4 separate regions of the Homo sapiens genome follow, and regions 1, 3 and 4 are each linked to region 2. Evidence: fine-mapped expression QTL. A gene starts in region 2. Each other region holds a variant in brackets. All regions are shown on one strand. Distances are from middle to middle. Region 1 has its middle 6.2 kb from the start of LINC02204. Region 2 holds the start of UACA (uveal autoantigen with coiled-coil domains and ankyrin repeats). Region 3 has its middle 8.1 kb from the start of SALRNA3. Region 4 overlaps UACA (uveal autoantigen with coiled-coil domains and ankyrin repeats).

The links. PIP is the estimated chance that this variant, and not a neighbour inherited with it, causes the effect.
Region 1: its variant is the best candidate, but not a certain one, in a credible set for the expression of UACA in testis (GTEx, PIP 0.58).
Region 3: its variant is the best candidate, but not a certain one, in a credible set for the expression of UACA in blood mononuclear cells (TOPMed, PIP 0.68).
Region 4: its variant is the best candidate, but not a certain one, in a credible set for the expression of UACA in whole blood (INTERVAL, PIP 0.87).

The regions. Positions count from the first base shown.
Region 1 is chr15:70,590,272-70,595,426 of GRCh38, forward strand. No RefSeq gene overlaps it. Among named protein-coding and RNA genes, the nearest start is that of LINC02204, 6.2 kb to the left of the region's middle. The variant T/G (reference allele first, on the strand shown) is at 2,083.
Region 2 is chr15:70,761,421-70,766,575 of GRCh38, forward strand. It overlaps UACA (uveal autoantigen with coiled-coil domains and ankyrin repeats), which reads right to left and starts at 2,138. Exons shown (of 19, transcript NM_018003.4): 1 at 1,910-2,138. The coding sequence starts at 1,987. RefSeq lists a silencer at 1,903-2,312.
Region 3 is chr15:70,621,062-70,626,216 of GRCh38, forward strand. No RefSeq gene overlaps it. Among named protein-coding and RNA genes, the nearest start is that of SALRNA3, 8.1 kb to the left of the region's middle. The variant G/A (reference allele first, on the strand shown) is at 2,374.
Region 4 is chr15:70,664,621-70,669,775 of GRCh38, forward strand. UACA (uveal autoantigen with coiled-coil domains and ankyrin repeats) reads right to left here. Exons shown (of 19, transcript NM_018003.4): 16 at 2,104-4,842; 17 at 42-194. Among named protein-coding and RNA genes, the nearest start is that of SALRNA2, 32 kb to the left of the region's middle. The variant G/A (reference allele first, on the strand shown) is at 3,109.

The DNA.
Region 1 (5,155 bases), 170 kb before region 2:
GTGCAGTGGCATGATCTTGGCTCACTGCAGCCTCCGCCTCCCAGGTTCCAGCAATTCTGCCTCAGCTTCCCGAGTAGCTGGGATTACAGGCCTGCACTGCCACACCCTGCTAGTTTTTGTATTTTTAGTAGAGACGGGGTTTTGCCATGTTGGCCAGGATGGCCTCGAACTTCTGACCTCAGGTGATCCTCCCACCTCGGCCTCCCAAAGTGCTGGGATTACAGTCGTGAGCCACCACGCCTGGCCTGAAGTGTTTTTATTATATCGACTGTATGCCTATTTTCTCTTTCTTCACTTACCTTTATTATCACCTTCCTTCACTTTCTGTTTTTATTCTAACTCATTAAGTTTCATGTATGCCTCATTAATATTCAGGTTTTCTTCATTTCTAATATAAGTGTTTAATGCTATGAACTTCCCTGTAAATACTGCTCTGGTGGTATTATCATGTTTTGATGTGTAATATTTTCATTAATGTTCAATTATAAATATTTTCTAATTTCTATTATAAGTTTTTTAACCCGTGAGTTGTTCAGTGTTCCCTTTTCTAACTTCCAAAATAATGGGAGTTTATAATTTCTTTTCATTGTGGTTGTTGATTTCTAACTTACTTGCATTATGGTTAAATAACATGGCCTGTATAATAACACTCCTTTTGAAATTGTTATGGCTTGCTTCATCACTTTTCTCATGATAAATTTTCATAAATGTTCCACATGTGCTTGAAAAGAACAATGGGCCCTTTCAGAGAGTGGAGGGCGGGGGGCGGGAAAGGATCAGGAAAAATAATTAATGGGTACTAAGGTTAATACCTGGATGATAAAATAATCTGTACAACAAACTCCCATGACACCAGTTTAACTGTGTAACAAACTGACATGGTTTGACTGTGTCCCCACCCAAATCTCATCTTGAATTGTAACTTCCACAGTTTCCACGTGTCATGGGAGGAACCCAATGGGAAGCAATTCAATAATGGGAGCGGGTCTTTCCTGAGCTGTTCTCGTGTTAGTGAATAAGTCTCACAAGATCTGCTGGTTTTAAAAATGGGAGTTTCCCTACACAGGCTCTCTTTTTGCCTACTGCCATCCATGTAAGATATGACTTGCTACTCCTTGCCTTCTGCCATGATTGTGAGGCCTCCCCAGCCATGTGGAACTGTAAGTCCCATTAAACCTTTCTTTTCTAAGTTGCCCAGTCTTGGGTATGTATTTATCAGCAGTGTGAAAACAGACTAATACAGTAAATTGGTACCAGTAGAGTAGGGCGCTGCTGAAAACATACCCAAAAATATGGAAGAGACTTTGGAACTGGGTAACAGGCAGAGGTTGGAACAGTTTGGAGGGCTCAGAAGAAGACAGGAAAATGTGGGAAAGTTTGGAACTTCCTAGAGACATATCGAATGGCTTTGAACAAAATGCTGATAGTGATATGGACAATGAAATCCAGGCTGAGGTTGTCTCAGATGAAGATGAGGAACTTGTTGGGAACTGGAGTAAAAGTGACTCTTGCTATGTTTTAGCAAAGAGACTGGTGGCGTTTTGCCCCTGCCCTAGAGATTTGTGGAACTTTGAACTTCAGAGAGATGATTTAGGGTATCTGGCAGAAAAAATGTCAGCATTGAAGAAGTGACTTGGGTGCTGTTAAAAGCATTCAGTTTAAAAGGGAAACAGAGCATAAAAGTTTGGAAAATTTGAAGCCTGACAATGTGATAGAAAAGAAAATCCCATTTTCTGAGGAGAAATTCAAGCCTGCTGCAGAAATTTGCATGAGTAATGAGGAGCCGAATGTTAATCCCCAAAACAATGGGGAAAATGTTTCCAGGGCATGTCAGAGGTCTTCACAACAGCCCCTCCCATCACAGGCATGGAGGCTTAGAAAGAAAACATGGTTTCATGAGCCGGGCCCAGGGTCCTGGTGCTGTGTGCAGCCTAGGGACTTGGTGCCCTGCATCCCAGCCACTCCAGCTGTGACTAAAAGGATCCAAGGTACAGCTTGGGCCATGGCTTCAGAGGGTGCAAGTCCCAAGCCTTGGCAGCTTCCACGTGGTGTTGAGCCTGTGGGTGCACAGAAGTCAACAAT[T/G]GAGGTTTGGGAACCTCCACCTAGATTTCAGAGGATGTATAGAAACGCCTGGATGTCCAAGTGGAAGTTTACTGTAGGGGCAGGGCCCTCATGGAGAACCTCTGCTAGGTCAATACAGAAGGGAAATGTGGGGTTGGAGCCCCCACACACAGTCCCTACTGGGGCACCACCTAGTGGAGCTGTGATAAGAGGTCCACCGTCCTCCAGACCCCAGAATGGTAGATCCACTGATAGCCTGCACCATGGGCTTGAAAAAGCCACAGACACTCAATGCCAGCCTGTGAAAGCAGCCAGGAGGGAGGCGTTACCCTGCAAAGCCACAGGAGTGGAGCTGCCCAAGACCATAGGAACCCACCTTTTGCATCAGCATGACCTGGATGTTAGACATGGAGTCAAAGGAGATCATTCTGGAGCTTTAAGATTTGACTGCCCTGCTGGATTTTGGACTTGCATGGGGCCTGTAGTCCCTTTGGTTTGGCCGATTTCTCCCATTTGGAATGGTTGTATTTACCCAATGCCTGTACTCCCATTGTATCTAGGAAGTAACTAATTTGCTTTTGATTTTACAGGCTCATAGGTGGAAGGGACTTGCCTTGTCTCAGATGAGACATTGGACTGTGGACTTCTGAATTAATGCTGAAATGAGTTAAGACTCTGGGGGACTGTTGGGAAGGCATGACTGGTTTTGAAATGTGAGGACTTGAGATTTAGGAGAAGCCAGGGGCAGAATGATATGGTTTGCGTCCCCAACCAAATCTCTTGTTGAATTGTAACTCCCACAATTCCCATGTGTTGTGGGAGGAACCCAGTGTGAGGTGATTGAATTATATGGGCGGGTCTTTCCTGCTCTGTTCTCGTGATAGTGAATAAGTCTCACGAGAGCTGATGGTTTTAAAAACGGAAGTTTCCCTACACAAGCTCTCTTTTTGCCTGCTGCTATTCATGTAAGATGCAGCTTGCTCCTCCTTGCCTTCCACCATGATTGTGAGGCCTCCCCAGCCATGTGAAACTGTAAGTCCCATTAAACCTCTTTCTTTTGTAGATTGCCCAGTCTTGGGTATGTCTTTATCAGCAGCATGAAAACAGACTAAATACACAAACCTGCACATGTACCCTGAACTTAAAAAACAAAAAAGAAAAGAATGTGTTCTCTATTTGTGTGTAAAAGTCTATTAGGGCAAACTTCATCTTTGTGTTGTTCAAATACTCTAAATTTTTGTTAATTTTTTAATCGCACAGATTAATAAGAGAAGAAAATTAAAATCTATTTTGACTGTGAATTTGTAAGTTTTTTCTTATAGTTCTGGCAATTTTTGCTTTACATATTTTAATGTTATTTTTATTAGGTTTATTTTGGTTTAGAATTGTTACATCTTCCTAGTGAAGAATGTCCTATCATTATGTAATGGAACTGTAAGTCTGAAGTTATCCTTTTTTCCTTAAATACTATTTTTCTTCTATTAATATCACCACATCATTTATGTTCTTTGGCTTAGTATTTGCCTGGTATATATCTTTCTAGCCTTTTACATTCAGCTTTTATGTATGCTTATATTTTAGTTATGTCTCTTGTAAAAAGCATATAAACTGAATTTTGCTTATTTAAAAAATAACTCCAAAAATCCTTGTCTTTTACCAGAAATTTTAGTTACTTTACATTTATTGTGACTGTTGGCATATTTTGATTTATTTTTGTTATCTTATTTTGTACTGTACACATTTGTCCCATTTTTTTCTCTTTTTCTTATTTGGTTTCTCTTTCCTTGTCATTTTTTTGGTGGAGGGAGGGTGATTGATTTGTTTTTCTCACTCAATTTTTTACCTCTGTTATTATAGTAGCTACCCTAGAAAGTTCAACAAGTATGTTTAATAGTGTCTAAAGCTAATTAGTATCCTTACCCCTTTTCTGAAAAATTCATGGATTTTTAAATACTTAACTCTGATTACACCTCCCAACTTGCAAGTTACTGGGATCTACTTTTTATCCTATTTTTCCTTTAGCCAAAAAATAGACATTATGTCTTATTTTATACAATCATTGCATATTTAGATATGACCATACATGTTCACCAATTTCTTGCCTCTTAATTCCTCTTTGTATATCATATCTGAGATCTGGGATCACGTCTGAGATCACATTCCTTCTATAGGAAGTATATTATTTTAGAATTTCCTTAAGTGAAGATTTGCTGGTTTCAACTTCTTCATTTTTTTGTCTAAAAATGACTTTATTTTGGCCTCCCATTTAAAAGATATTTTTGCTGACTATTGTATACTCAGTATTGTGTATAAAACTGTATTTTAGACTGTTATTTTCTTTCAACAATTTTTCTATTATCTTCTGGTTTTTATTCCCCTTGCAAGGGTAATTGTTTTGTAGGTAATTCATCTTTTTCTGGCTGCTTTTGTAATCTTTTCTTTGTCTTTGGTGTTCTGCATTTTTCCAATGATATGTCTAGGGGTAAATTTCTTATCCTGCTTGAAATTCAGAGCATCCTAGTTCTAAAGTTTACTGTCTTTCAACAATTCTGGAGAATTCTCAGCTATGATTTTTCTATCTTCTCTTCTGAAACTCTGATTAGAGATTACTCATCTTCCATGTTGCTTAACTTTCCTTTCATACTTTCTGTTGTCTTTTCTCTCTGGGATACATTCTAGGTAATTACTTCGGATCTATCATCTAGTTCATAATTCTCTCTTCAGCTGCTTCTAGTATATCACCCATCTACTCAAATTTTAGATTTCAATTGCTGTTTCTTATTCCTGAAAGTTTTATTTGGTTCTTTTATAATTCATCTTGGTTCTTCCTTTGATATTCTATTTTCTTTTTTCCCTTTTCAAAGTACTTATGTTCTTTTATCTCTTTCTTCGCTTATTTTCAAGTATCTCTTTCATTTCTATAAATGTATTAAACATACTTCCTTAATACTCTGTATCCATTAATTCTGATATGAAAGTCTTTTCTGGACTAATTCTGCTGTCTGTTTTTTCTGCTGGCTCTTGCTCATGGTGTAATTTTTCATGCCTATTTTTTGATTTTTGACTGTGAGCAGAAATTCATTGGAATTTTATC
Region 2 (5,155 bases):
CCCAATCATACAATAAATACATATACATGTGACCAAATCTGGGATTATGGTTTATAGATTGAAAAGCAGAAAGGGTCTATTTCTCCTGTACATGTGTTTTATTCTATCAATGCTTGGTTTGGTTTTATTCATCACTACAGTTTTATTTTAAAATTTTACAGAATTCATTCTAAGTTTTATTCCTCATTACGCTTTTATTTTTAAATTGTACAGAACTTATTCTAATATTTAAACAGAAATGTTTGCTTTTTCTACATAAATAGGTTAATATCATGTTTATCTTTATTATGTCATTTTGAGAAAAATAGAACGCTCAATTGAGTGCTAAAGATTTAAGCTCAGAGATATGCACTTTATGTTCCAAATGTATAAAATGCAAACTATCATGCTGATAATACCTACTAAATACTCTGCATTTCTAGAAAACTGGATAAAATTAAGGCATATAAACCTCCAAGTGGGATTTACATCCTTAGTGCAAATCAAACACAACCAGGGAAAACAAAGCTAATAAATCTAGAAACTTGTATCTTCTATAAGGCTAAAAACACAACTTGCATTACAGAAGTAGAATCTTAACTGTAATGAACTCCAATATCACTAAATGACATTTCTGCCAGTTACTTTTTTTAAAAAAAAAAGTGAAACAAAGTAATCTCTGTTTTCCATGAGCTTATAAAACGACTTCATGCTTTATCAAAGAACATCAATTACGTCATCTGAATCTACTCTCTTTTTTTGAAATAGGAATTTAAGTCTAGGTAGTTCCTCCACAATTTCCTTTATGTCCAAGTAAAATAATCCTCGATATAGGTGGAGAGAAAGGCATAACTGAATTAACTCAAAAAAGCAGAAGCAGATTAATTAGTATTCTGATAAAAAGAATATAATCATTTGGTAAAATCTGCGTTGAATTGTAAAGGTTCATTTTAATTACCCCAACTAGGTAACTGTGCAGTTGGAGCATAACAACTCCTTTACGTTCGACTCTTCCAAGACTTTGTAAGTGGCACTTATTTTAATGATATAGAATTTTGATGATATCGCCATTCTTGTAACGTGACAAATTATCTAAATCACAACATCTGCGGTCAGGCTGTTTCTCAAGATTTCTGTTCTCCTGCCAACTAAAGAGGCCCCGACTACTCCTTGGCGCGCACACTGAGGCCGCGCTGCAGGTCAGCACCGAAAGAGCCCCGCACGGATCCCGCCCCACAGGTGCGATTTACACAACCCACATCACCACCACCCCTCCCAACTTCACCACCTCTAGGGTCACCACCCTGTGGGGTTTTGTCTTTACGACTAAGCCGATTCCCTCTGCCTCGCTGGGGAATCAAACTTCCCAGTGACAACGACAGCGGCCAGCACGGGACGTCCACCAGCCCGGCAGGGCTTGACGCTGTCTCAGACCCGGGGAAGGTCCGGAGTCCGGGCACGGTGGCGCGGGGTGCGCAGCCCTGCCCACCTGCCCTACCTGGTGCGAGCCCCGGCCCCGGGGACTGGGGAGCCAACACGGCCGAGCGGGCGTGGGCAGCAGGGCGAGCGCCGGGAGAGGAGAGCGACGAGGGGGGGTCAACGGAAAGAGCGGAGTAGGGGTGCCAATCGAGGAACTTTGGATTTAGGAGGAGGGGGCCAGAACCGCCCCACTGAGGTTTCTTCCAGAAGTTCGGAGGCTTGGGAGAAAGGGGTGGGGAAGAGACCCGTAGAGGCTCGGGTGCGGCGGCGGGGAGGATCCCCGGGGTCTCTGGGCTGACGGAGTCTCCGGCCTCAGGGAGGAGTCGCCAGGGCCGCCGAAGCCGAACTGGCAGAGGAAAAGCAGAGGAAGGCGGCGCGCGAACTCGCCAGCAAAGGAGGGCTGCGCTGCTCCCGGAGCGGAGCGCCTCGCAGCCCGGACCGCGGGACTCACCGCGCTGGCGGCGGCGGCGCCAGACGACGCGGGGCCGGGCACGTCCTGCCTCCTCAGGCGGGACTTGAGGCTCTTCATGGCTAACTCTTGCCTGGCCCCCGCGCGAACCTTAAAGGCTGCGGAGTGCCAGCGCGCAAGGAGTAGACGGCAGCGGCTGCAGCAGAGGCGGCGCGGGCTGTACCAGCCCCACCTGCCTGCCACCTGCGGGCCCCGGGCAGCAGACGTCGACAGGCCTGAGGCGGGGCTCCCCTCCCGTAGCCAATTGACCCGCTGCCCTGGCGGGGGCGTGGCAAACCGCGACCAATCGGAATGCGGGAATGGGGCGGGACTTCCCTTTTAAACTGAGTAACACCCTTCCTCTCCCAGCTGGAGGAAAAGTTTGGGAACTTTAGCCCGGGAAGGGGCGGAGGAGGTGGGCGGCCAGAGGCGTGGAGATGCGCGCAGGCCGGGCTCCAGGCCACCGGCGCCCGCCCACCCGGAGCTTAAGATCTAGAGAGAGCACGGGGTCCCGCCTTTGCCACCTCTCATCTTCCCGGACTCCCCTCCTCTTTCCACCCACGCGCTCTTTACCAAGTAAAGTTCCTTCCCTTCCGTCTGGTCTTAGAAATGACTCTTGGTTACCTGCACACAGAACAGCTTTCAGGAGCAACTTCTTTTCAGTCTCCTGTTTTACTACCAAATCCTGGTGCCTGGAAACCACCACACGCATCAAAAATTCCAGAAATAAACAGTCTCTAAGAAATAAGGTGCTGATTGTGCAGAAAAACGTACAGTTAAGAAAGACCTTGAAAGACGTTATAGTAAGTTACAGTACAAGTTACGTGCTCGTTTATTTGTTGAGTGAAGAATCCGCCGTATTGGAAGCAAAGGGACGGAATGGGGGCGGGGAGGGAGGAGAAGAGGTGCCATCAATTAAAAATGACTCCCACAGCCAGTGATTTAAGTTGTCAAAAAAAGTTACGCCCTTTTTTCTTCAAAAAGGTTTTTTGTTTTCTGTAGAAACACATTACATGTAAACGTATACGATGAAGTTAAATCATCTTACCTAGAAATCTGGGTTAGTAAAAATTATTTAAGAGGATGAAGAAACAGGAAGGTGCTCAGCACCCAATAATTTGCTGTTCGGGTGACATCTTCAAAAGTCTTCTTTGGAGTCATTTTTCCCCCCAGCAAAACGTTTATCGTAGCATGCATCCATTTGAAAAGACAAACGGTCCACATTTTCTGACTAACAAAGGACTCTTTTTTGTCTGAAAGGTCAGTTGCTCTCTTTAGAGTTTCTTTATAGTAACGCAAGGTTTTCTTCAAATACTGTAAGAAAGTTTTCAGAATTTCTTGGAGAGGCAGCATTCAAAGACTGTGTTAACCCTATACAACAAGTAAATAACAACTAACTACCCAAAAATATTATTAAATTTCATCTTGATTAGATCTTTGGAAGAAAATTTTCTTTGATTCCTCCCCCTTCCTCTAGATCTCCAGTCATTTAGTTCTTGTTGGCTCTTTAAAGTGTCTGTGTATGGTCAGTTACTCTGTTCTCACTGCCACTGCAGAGCCAAAATTACCTCATACCCGGACTATTATTACAGAAGCTTCCCAGCCAGTCTCCCAACCTTCAGTCTCTTAATTGTCCCATCACCAATAAATTATCAGCCATCATCAATAAGTCTTACAAAAATACTCCTCTTGCTCAAAAGCCTTCAGCAGCTAACGAATAAAATCTAATTCTTTGCATTTAAAGCTGTATAACGTGGACGCGACCCTGTTCTCTAGCCAACACCCCAAGCGAATTACTCTTCAGCCCATTCTCCAAACATGGGTCATGGCTTTCAACTTCCACATCTTTATGCATACTGATCCCTCCCCCAATAATCTTCTGTCTGTCTACATTCATCTCAGAAAATCCTACTCCCCCAAGAGTGATTGGTAGGGGATGTCGGGGGCTTCTGGAATACTGTACTATTCTCTGTGGGTGCTGGTTACATATCTAGTGTTTTCAGATTGTGAAAATTCAATGAGCCTGTACTGTATGCAATATATTCTCTTTTATGTGTGTGTTATGCTTTAACAAAAAGTTTGTTTTTAAGTGTATGTCCCTTCCAAGTGCCCTCCTCTCTATAGAACCTTCCCTGATCAAGTAACTGGAAGTGATCTCTCCATCCTCCAAATAGTTACAGCAATTATACCTCTCATATGATACTAACACATATGAGCTGAGCAAACCTTATTTCATTACTGGACTTCAATTTACTTAAAATTGGGGAATAACTGACATATATTTGAATTCCCTAGAATGCTTAGCATGTTATAGGTGTTTAATAAATATTTCTGAATGAATTGATGCATTCTTATTGACTACTATAGCAAATTATGGTTGTTTGTTCTATGTATTTATGTGACACAGGATTGGGATTCCCCCTATTGTGAACACAGATGGAATGATCTGAGGCTATGGTCCTGCTCAAATATTTGTGTCTCAATCAACTCCTTTCTCTGGGCTTAAGATAAGCACCCATTTACCATCTAGTCCTCTGACTGAATCTTAAATGTTAATTGCTTACAAGAGCACTGTCTCAGTAATTGGCTCTTGAGTTATTAATTGCAGTGTTATGTTGTACTGGTTGTCTCCTGTAACATCCAAGTTATCATAGTCCTGGTGACTGGCCTCCTTTTCTGTTGTTACTGGATAAAGCAAAGGAAACAGACAGAACCACAAGTATAGCTTGCATCAGGTTCCAAAAATGTTGGGCAAGTTATTTTTATGAACTGTCTGGATGATGTCCCCATGGTGTCTGTGTCCAGTGGCCTTTATGGATTTTTCCAGCCTAGAAACTTGATAGCTGATGTCTGCTTATTCCCATTTGAGAGCAGCTAAGTAAATAGCACTGGTCTGAATATTCAGTAAAGCTTTTTTACATTGATCTGGAAGCTGCCTATATGAAGTAAAGTCACTATTATTAGCATTCAACCAGACAGGTTGGGTTTTATTTTGTTAACTCTTATCACTATTATTTATTTTTATCTTCCCTTCAGAGCAAAGGGCACTTATCAAACCTAGATGACCTTTTGTTTGTTATCACACTGAGCCTATATAAAATATTTTTTTGTTTTACTTCTTTTTTTTTTCCAATATTTATTTATTTACAATATATACCAGGAAGGGTAATGCATTTTTTAAAATTACTTTACTAGATTATATATACACATGGTAATCTCAAATAATACAAATGGAGCAAGTTGATCTGC
Region 3 (5,155 bases), 140 kb before region 2:
TCACAAGAAGACATTTATGCAGCCAACAGACACATGAAAAAATGCTCATCATCACTGCCCATCAGAGAAATGCAAATCAAAACCACAATGAGATACCATCTCCACCAGTTAGAATGGTGATCATTAAAAAGTCAGGAAACAACAGGTGCTAGAGAGGATGTGGAGAAATAGGAATGCTTTTACACTGTTGATGGGAGTATAAATTAGTTCAACCACTGTGGAAGTCAGTGTGGCGATTCCTCAAGGATCTACAACCAGAAATACCATTTGACCCAGCCATCCCATTACTGGGTATATACCCAAAGGATTATAGATCATGCTGCTATAAAGACACATGCACACGTATGTTTATTGCAGCATTATTCACAATAGCAAAGACTTGGAACCAACACAAATGTCCATCAGTGATAGACTGGATTAAGAAAATGTGGCACATATATACCATGGAATACTATGCAGCCGTAAAAAAGGATGAGTGCATGTCCTTTGTAGGGACATGGATGAAGCTGGAAACCATCATTCTGAGCAAACTATCACAAGGACAGAAAACCAAACACCACATGTTCTCACTCATAGGTTGGAACTGAACAATGAGAACACTTGGACACGGGGGGAACATTACACACCAGGACCTGTTGTGGGGTGAGGGAAGGGTGGAGGGATAACATTAGGAGAAATACCTAATGTAAATGATGAGTTACTGGGTGCAGCACACCAAGATGGCACATGTATACATATGTAACAAATCTGCATGTTGTGCACATGTACCCTAGAACTTAAAGCATAATAATAATAATAATAATAATAATAATATAAATAAATAAATCAGTTGTTGAAAAGATTACCCATTATCTAATGAATTATCTTGGCAACTTTCTCAAAAAGCAATTACTCATATATATATATGAGTTCACTTCTCAACTCTCTTCTGTTCCACTGCTCTATATGTCTATATACCATGCTGTTTTGTTTATTATAGCTGATAGTAAGTCTTGAAATCAGAGAGTTTAAGTCCTCCAACATTTTTCTTCTTTTAAAAATGTTTACCTGTGTAATGAACCTGCACATCCTGCACATGTACCCTGGAACTTAAAATAAAAGTTAATGAAAAAAATTGTATTTGTTATTTATGGTTCTTTGTCATTTCAAATTTTAAAAATCAATTGTCAGTGTCTGGTTTGAAAGCTTGCTTGGATTTACATTGCTTCATATATTAAACATCCCATTTTGGAGAGAATTGACATCGTAGCAATGTTGAGTCTTATGATCCATGAACATGGTATATATGCCTATTTATTTAGATCTTTAATTTCTCTCAGCAAAGTTCTTGAATTTTTACTGTACATATCTCTTGTATTTAATCCTAAGTTTTATGTTTTTGACATTGTATTAAATGAATGTTTTTAGGATATTTTCCACTGGTTTGCTGCTAGTATAAAATAACTATTAATTTTTGTATATTATACTTGTATCCTACAGGTTTGCTAAATTTGTTTTTTATTTCTAATAGCTCTTTCATAAATTCCTTGGAGTTTTCTACATAAACAGTCATATTACCTGCAAACACAGGCAGTTTTACTTCTATTTTTCAATCTGTATACCTTTTATTTATTGTCCTTGTCTTATTGCAATGGCTATAACCTCTAATACAATGTTAAATAGTAGCAGTGAGAGTTACATCCTTACCTTGTGCTCAGGCTGAGAGGTAAAGCATTCACTATTTCACTATCAAATCAACCATGGTGTTAATTGCAGGTTTTTCATATAGATGACCTATAGAAATGTGAGGAGGATCTCTTTTTTCCTACTTTACTGAGAGATTTTATTATTAATGGATTTTAAATGTTTTCACTTGCATTTTCCACATCTATCAAAATTATCATATTGTTTTTCTCCTTTCTTTATGTTGTTAATATGGTGAATTACATTGATTGATTTTCAAACATTAAGCCAACCTTGCATTTCTAGGATAAATCCCATGTGCTCATGGTATATTATCCTTTTTATATACTGTTGGATTCAATTTGCTAAAACTTTTTTTAGGAATTTTATGTCTATGTTCATGAGGAATATTGGTCTGAAATTTTATTTTATTTTATCTTTGGAATATCTTTCACAGATTTTGGTATTAGAGTTATGCTAACCTCAGATAATTAAATAATTGTCCTACTTTATTTATTTTCTTAAGGATTTTATGTAAAATTGGTATTATTTTATTTTATCCTTGAATTTTTATAGAATTTACCAATAAAGCTATTTGAGGCTGGAATTTTCTTTGTGAAGAGTTTTGTGTGTGTGTGTTTTGTTGTTGTTGTTCTTAAGAGACAAAGTCTTGTTCTGTCACCCAGGTTGGAGTACAGTGGCATGATCACT[G/A]CAGCCTTGAACTCTTAGGCTCAATCTTCCCACCTCACTTCCTGAGTACCTAGGACCATAAGTGTGTACCACCATGCTTGGCTAATTTTTTTAAATTTTTGTAGAGATGTGGTCTTGCAATGTTACTCAGTCTGGTCTCAAACTCCTTGCCTCAAGTGATCTCACCTCAGCCCCCCAAAGCAGGAAGTTGTTTAAAAAAAAAAATTAAATTATTTAATAGATATAGGCTACTCAGAGTTTCTGTTTCATCTTATGTCAGTTCTCATGAATTATATTTTCAATTTTGTCTATAGTGTTGAATTTGTTGGTATACAGCTATTTATAATATGCCCTTCTATCTTTTTAATATCTGTATCTGTATTAATTAATTAATTTTCATTTATTCCTGGTGTGGGTCCTTTGTCTCCCCTCTATGACCAGTCTAACCAGGGATTTACCAATTTCATTCATCTTTTCAAGGAAACAACTTTGGCCTTGTTAATTGTTTATATTACCTGATCTCTTCTCTACTGATTTTTGCTTTTGTCTTTATTGTTTTTTCCTTCCACTTATTTTTGGTTTACATTGCTCTTTTTTGTTTGTTTGTTTTCTCTTAGCTCTTTGGGCATTGATTTTTCAACACTTTTTTCTTTTCTTTTTTTGCGATGGAGTCTCACTGTGTTGCCAGGCTGGAATGCAGTGGTGCGATCTCGGCTCACTGCAACCGCCGCCTCTCGGGTTCAAGCAATTCTCTTGCCTCAGCCTCCCGAGTAGCTGGGACTACAGGCGCACACCACCACGCCCAGCCAATTTGTATTTTTAGTAGAGACGGGGTTTCACCATGTTGGCCAGGATGGTCTCGATCTCCTGACCTCGTGATCTACCTGCCTCGGCCCCCCAAAGTGCTGGGATTACAGGTGTAAGCCAGCACACCTAATAAAAGGATGTAAATCATTTTCCTCTAAACACTGATTTAGCCAAATCTCACAGATTTAGATGTTGTTATTTTCATTATCCTAATGTCTGAGATTTTTATTATTGTTATTATTATTATTATTTTCAGATGCAGTCTCACTCTGTCACCCAGGCTGGAGTGCAGTGGCACGATCTCGGCTCACTGCAACCTCCGCCTCCTGGATTCAAGCAGTTCTCCTGCATCAGCCTCCCGAGTAGCTGGGACTACAGGCACGTGCCACCAGGCCTGGCTAATTTTTGTATTTTTAGTAGAGATGGGGTTTCACCATGTTGGCCAGGCTGGTCTTGAACTCCTGACCTCAGGTGATCCACCCGCCTCGGCCTCCCAAAGTGCTGGGATTACAGGCATGAGCCACCGTGCCTGGCCTAAAATATTTTTTAATTTGGGGTAATTTCTTCTTTGACCTATGGGTTATAGAAAACCGTATTGTTGAATCTCCAAAATGTGCGTTTTTCATAGATGTCATAGTTGTTGGTTCTCATTTAATTCAATTTTGGTCAGAGAACATGCTCCAAAAAGCCCAAATTTTGAATTTACCTCTCTGGGTTTCTGTCATCCTCCAATATGCTTCTTTATCATATCAGCTCACTACAGCCTACATGTAGATCTTTTAAAAAAATATTTTGTCTGGTTTTCCTTATTGTGCTAATGGGGAGAATTAATCCAAATGATCAAGTCATTCATTATCAGAAGTCACTATATATGCTTTTCAAACATGTGTCAGACAAAACCAATTGTTTAACATAAAAGTTAAGTCATAAATCTTTTGGTGGAATTTTTCTGCCTGGGATAGATTGGCTCTTTCCTTAAAACATGAGTCAAATGAAGTTTGAGCCAAAGATATTTTCTCCCTGTCCTAGAACAAACTTCAAAATCAAGTTAGGCATTCTTTTTACAAGAATTTCCAAGAGATGCTCAAATTGAGGTCCTTTTTCACAATTGTTCTTCATTGCCTATTTAGTTTATAAGAATGTCTTTGACATTAATTGCTGAGGAAGGAGAAATCTCACTTCTTCCTCTTCTTCTTCCATTCCTTAGTCTCTGTTTTATCAACCTAAAAAACTAATTTTGGACTGCATTCCTTTTCAACAATTAGATATACTATTTTCTAGAACTTCTACAATGCTCTATCTAGTCCTACAGTTTTCCTCAAACCCCGATGTCATTGTTAGGAGGGAAAGATTATTCTCACTCGTTTATCATTCTATGTGGAGGGGCACCATTCTTTGTAACACTTCTGGCCTCACTCCAACTGGTGAGTTAGAAAAGAGGAACTGGGAATGTGCACTTCAGCTTCTTCTGTCCTCTCTCTCTGGAACAGGTTGCCCCAAAGAAGCACACGTTCTGTTATGCTCCTCCAAGAACAAAAATTCACAAGCTAATACTTTTGGGTGGGTATAATTATCAAAGTCTGATAGATTATTAAACCCAAATATCAGGTTCATCATTAATAAGGGAACTATTCTGCTGGCTCCCTTGAATCCAATAGATATGCCAATCAGTTCTCTTCCTGAAGTGATCCCAAAGGAAAAGAAAGCATTATATCAAAAAGAAACCAGATGGATGGATCACCTGAGGACAAGGGTTCAAGACCAGCCTGACCAATACGGAGAAATCCCATCTCTGCTAAAAATACAAAAATTAGCCAGGCATGGTGACGGGCGCCTGTAGTCCCAGCTACTCAGGAGGCTGAGACAGGAGAATTGCTTGAACCCGAGAGGCAGAGGTTGCAGTGAGCCGAGATCACGCCGATGAACTCCAGCCTGGGCGACAGAGCAAGACTCTGTCTCAAAAAAAAAAAAAAAGAAAAAGAAAAAGAAAAGAAAA
Region 4 (5,155 bases), 97 kb before region 2:
AGCACATATTCCTGCAAAGCCCCGTGTGCCTGGTTACTCACGGCCAGCTGTTGCTCCAGAGATTTCACTTGGTGCTGCAGAGTGTCAATCAGCTGGCTCTGCCTCTTGGTGGGGTTCCCACTTGTGTAGGTGAGTTGGGAAAGGCCATTGAGTGCCTGTTTTAATCTTTCCACATCATTAAGCAGTTCAGTTATCTTTAAAAAAATGTTGTAGGAGAAATATATTATTCACTTATCATGTACAATGAACATCTTTGTACAGAAATCATTCCTTTTTGGAGACAGAAGCTTTATCTTTATACACCAGAAAATTGAGGTATGAATATTGCCAAGACTGTTACCAAGGATGTATACAATATGTAATTTATAATTAAATCCCTCTCCAGAAATTATTTACAAAAGCAATACCAAATTAAGAATAAATATTACATATATCCTAAGATGTGAGTATAAACATAGTCTTACTTTTAGCTAATATATAAGCATCTACGAAGGCACATGAACTATCTTCCAGGTAACATATGGAACACAGGAAGGGAAGGGGGATTCCCAGCAACAAAGTGTGAAAAGTAAAAGGGTGTGGCCCGTGTAAGTCTAGGATTAACATATGTTCCTTTTTCCTTTCAAGAGTTGTATTATTTAAGACCACTTTGTTGTAGAGAGAAAAAAAACAAGGAGGCTTGTTTATAGGAATAGGAAGTGCCTAGAAACATAGCATTTTTCCACCCTGCTTTAAAGTCAGACAGAGTCAACTTGTATGAGCTTGGCTAATTTACTTTTCTGAGCCTTAGATTCCACATTGGTGAAAGGTGGACAATCTTTCAGAGTTAAGAAAATCAGGTTGGGCACAGTGGCTCACACCTATAGTCCCAACACTTTGGGAGGCTAAGGCAGGAAGATTGTTTAAACTCAGGAATTCAAGACCAGCCTGGGCAATAGAGCAAGATACCATCTCCTCCCCCACAAAATTTTTTATTGAAAAATAATAATAGAAAAAAAACAAAGAAAATGAAATGCAATTACATGCACCCGCTCAATAAATGGCAACAAGTAGATATTAATAATTAACTCTTATATATTACTATATATATTCATAGGTACCTTCTGAACAAGCTTAGAGCATTTAAATTCTCAATCACAGAGATGGTGTGCCAGAGGACAGTATGTACAAGTACTTTCCACTGGGGAGGGCAGTCTGTGTCTGTGTTTACTCCACTGTATCCCCAGCACATGACATGCAGAAGGCATTTAATCATTACATGTTGAATGGATAAAACTGCAGCCAATCTTTATATGTCATATCCATAGTAAAAACTTTATGCAACATCAGTGTCAAAAATATTGTTGAGTACCTATTCTGTAAATTGTACCATGAGAATTAAAGCTAAGATGGAAAGTTAAGTTATAAACCCTGCTCATAAAAACTGATTGGGAAGATCAACTACATAATTCTAACAAGGTAATATAAATGTTTTAAATGGATGGCAAAGCCACAGTAAAACATCCACCTTAGAGGAGGAACTGTTTACTATAGACTAGATTGGACAGTGAGGGCTTTAAGAAGGAGGATAACATGTTAATGAATGTATAGGATTCAACTCAGTAGAAAGGAGGGAAAGGACATTCTGGGTGAGGGGATGTAGACTTTCTAGTCTGTAGAAAGACATGAGCAACAGAACATAAAATGAATTGGAGGGCTCAGTTTACTACTATGGGTGAGTACCGAGATCAACTCTAGATGCTCCCCAGTGTTCTTGGTTTCTTGCAGCCCAGAAAGAGAGCTTCCCCACCACCCTCTTCCCCATCTTTCATATGCCACAAACCCACTGGCTTTTGACTCTTCATGTATGAGACAAGTGAGCCTTAAGTCTCCCCATCGTTCCTGAATTCTTGGCTAGAACAGCTAAAGAAACAGAAGGAAAAATGCTTTTGACTTTTGTGTTACTTCACTTTTTTTTTCAATTCGGAATTTTTGCACGCAAGTTGCTAAACTGGAAAGGGTCACTTTGTTAATACCTGTGTCTACTTTCCTGTGAGATTCTGTGGTAAAGAGCACTGCTCTGGGGTTTCCAACACATAGCCGTGCAGACTACTTTGTACCTACCTTATTATCTTTTGCTTCTATTTGTTTAGCAGATTCTTGTATTCTTCTTTGTAACTCTGTGATTGTTGTTAAGGACTTATCACATCGTTCCTTCTGATCCTTAATTTCTTGCTCAATGCTGAAATGCAGTAATTCCTTCTCATCTTTTGCAGATATTTCCTTCTTTTTGGCATGCAAAACTTCCTCACATACTTCCTCATACTTTCTATTCAGATTGGCCAATTTTTCATTTAAGCTAGAAATCTGTGTCTCCAAATCACTTTTTGTTGCTTTATATTTAGACAAGTCAACTACCTCTCTAGTCTCTAATTTTTTTAATGCTTGTTTAGTATTCTGAACCTCCGACTGAAGTTTGGAGACTTCTTCCATTTTGTTTTGGCTTTCTTCTTCCTTTTCTCTCAAGCTGGCTTTTATGATTCCAACTTCTTTCTCAAATGCTTCTTTAATCTGCAAATGCTCTGCCAGGGGTACAGAAGAGTTCTTTTGATTCTCCAACAATTGATGCAGTTTGGTCACTGTCTGCTGCTCTTTCTCGTAACACCTTTGCATACTCTTCAGTTCTTCCTTTAGATTTTCAATTGTGCCATTAAGAGATTTTTTCAGAGCCTCAACCTGTTCCAATGGAACATGTTGTTTTTGCAAAAGATTTTGCACTGCAAGTATCTCAGAAGTCTGTTTGGCATTTTCTTCTACTAGCTTCTCTTTCACATTCTTTACTTCCGTGTATTTCTGTGACAAGTCTTTTAACTGTTTGTTTAGCTCGTCTGTTTTTCTGCTTAATGCTCTTTCCATTTCATGAGACTTCTCAATGAGAACTGTCTTATCTCTCAAATCTTTCTGAAGGGTAAAAATCTCCTTCTTTAACTTGTCATTCTCTTGCTTGTTTTTCTTGACTTCTTCTTCACTGACACTATACTTTTGTGTCTGCTCTGATAACTGGTCTTTTAGTTCTTTCTCTGTTGCTTTAAATTTTCTCTCGCACTCCTCAAAGCTGACAATTGGGGC[G/A]TATTTTACCTTAATGCATTCTTGTATTGTGTCGAGCTCCTTCTTCTGGGCTTTAATTTCGGCATGCAGTGTCACAATCTCTTCTTGGCCTTTTCTGTAGTTGGCCAAGATTTCAGCATTACTATCCTGCACCTTTCTCATGCTCTGACTTAGCGAGCTCATCTTTGCCTCGTGCTCTGCCAGGCTGATGTACTCAGCTTTTATTTGGTTCTGAGTGTTTTCCAGGTTTCTTTTTAATATTTCATTCTTATCTTTTATTTTTACAAATTCCTGATTTATATCTTCAAATTTTTTCTTCACATCTAATAATTCTCTGTTAGTTTTGGCTAACGTGTCATTCAGTGTCATTTTAACCTCTTCATGGGTTTTAACTGGCACATACTGATTACTCATCATCTTCTTCAAGTTAGTGTTTTCAGATGTGAGAGCGTGTATTTTCTCCTGGTCTTCACCACATTTTTTCTTAAGTTCAGACAGCTGTTTCTTAAGTTCAACAATATTGGATTTCAGAGCTATTATCTCTTTTTCATGTTTCTCAGGAGGTACAAACACAGTTTCTAGGCGGCTTACATCCTTACTTAAGCTGTCATTTTCCAGTAGCAATTTCTCCATTTCCAACTTCTTTTCTGTATATTTTTGTGTTACATCTAAAAGCTTTCTATTAAGATCATCAATAATTGCATCATGTGACTTTTTCATGTCTTCACTTACTTTTAAAGGAACATAATGATTTTTCATTTCAATTGTTAAGTTATGTGCTTGCTCCTTGAGGAGCTTATTATCCAAATAAACTTTTTCAATTTCCTTTTGTAGTGTCTGATTTTTCAATGTTAACTCAGTGATCTTCTTCCCAAGTTCTCCTGATTTCTGTTCTAATCTGCTCTTAACCTGTTCATGTTCCTCTGGTTTGACGTGCTGAGCAAGCTTGGCCTTAACATTCTCAAGTTCTCTCTTTAACTGTCTAATTTCACTAAGTGATTTTTCATGTTCTCTTTCCATTTCTACTAATTTTTTTGCTTTCTCATTCACTTCATTTGATAATGAGCTCTTCATGTTTTCAAATTTTTCAGCTGGAATGGAAAGGGCCAACTTCGCTGACAATTCTTTTGCCTGGCCTTCCATCTCTGTGACCTTTCTTCCTTTCTTCTCTCGCTCCATTTCACACATACTAAGTTCCTTCTGTAATCGCTTATTTTCTTCTATCAGCTTGCCTTCATCCCTCTTAAACTCTTCTACTATCATCTCATTTTGTTTGATTTGGTTTCTTAATTTCCCCACTTCTGCTGAAGCACCTTCATATTTTACTTTCAAGTCTTTCAACTGATCCTTCAGTTCCTCGGTTAGTCTGTGATTCCCTGAGGCTGCTTCACTTGTTAAGTGTTCTTTAAGGGCAAGAAAATGGGTCTGCATTTGTTTAACTTTACCTTCTGACTCATACATCCTCTTCTGCACATCTTTTAATGCATCTTCTAATTGCTTTATCTGTTCATCTGAATCCTCCTTGACCCTTTCACATTCTAATGCTAAAGCTTTGCATTCTGCCACTTTGTGTGCCAGTTCATTTTGGAGCTTCAGTCGGTCTTGTTTTGCTGACTCACAGAAAGTTCGCATTGCTTCTAACTCTTTCTTTAAAATTTCATTTTCAGAGTATGACGTTTGACTGGGTAAAGATAGTTCCAGAGGTCTTAACATAGATCTGCTTTGCATATGGGCTGGTATACCTGGGGAAGTACACTGAAAAGAAAAAAAAAAAGACATCAATCACAAAAGCCTAAATGAGACATTTACTATACTTATTTGCCAAACTTAGAGAAAGTTAGCACATCATCAGGAATCAAAGGGTTTTCAGATTAGGCAGTAAGATGGAAAAAAAATCACAATGCTGATTTTTGTGGTAAGGAAACAGTTCTGGATATGATTTCCTTAATACATTCACAACATTTTGAGAGTTCTGTTCACGTAAGTCTATTTCTGGCAGAACAACGGACAATGGCCATGGCTACTGGGTGCTATTTTGTCTTTCTTCCCCCATTCATTAACACCTACC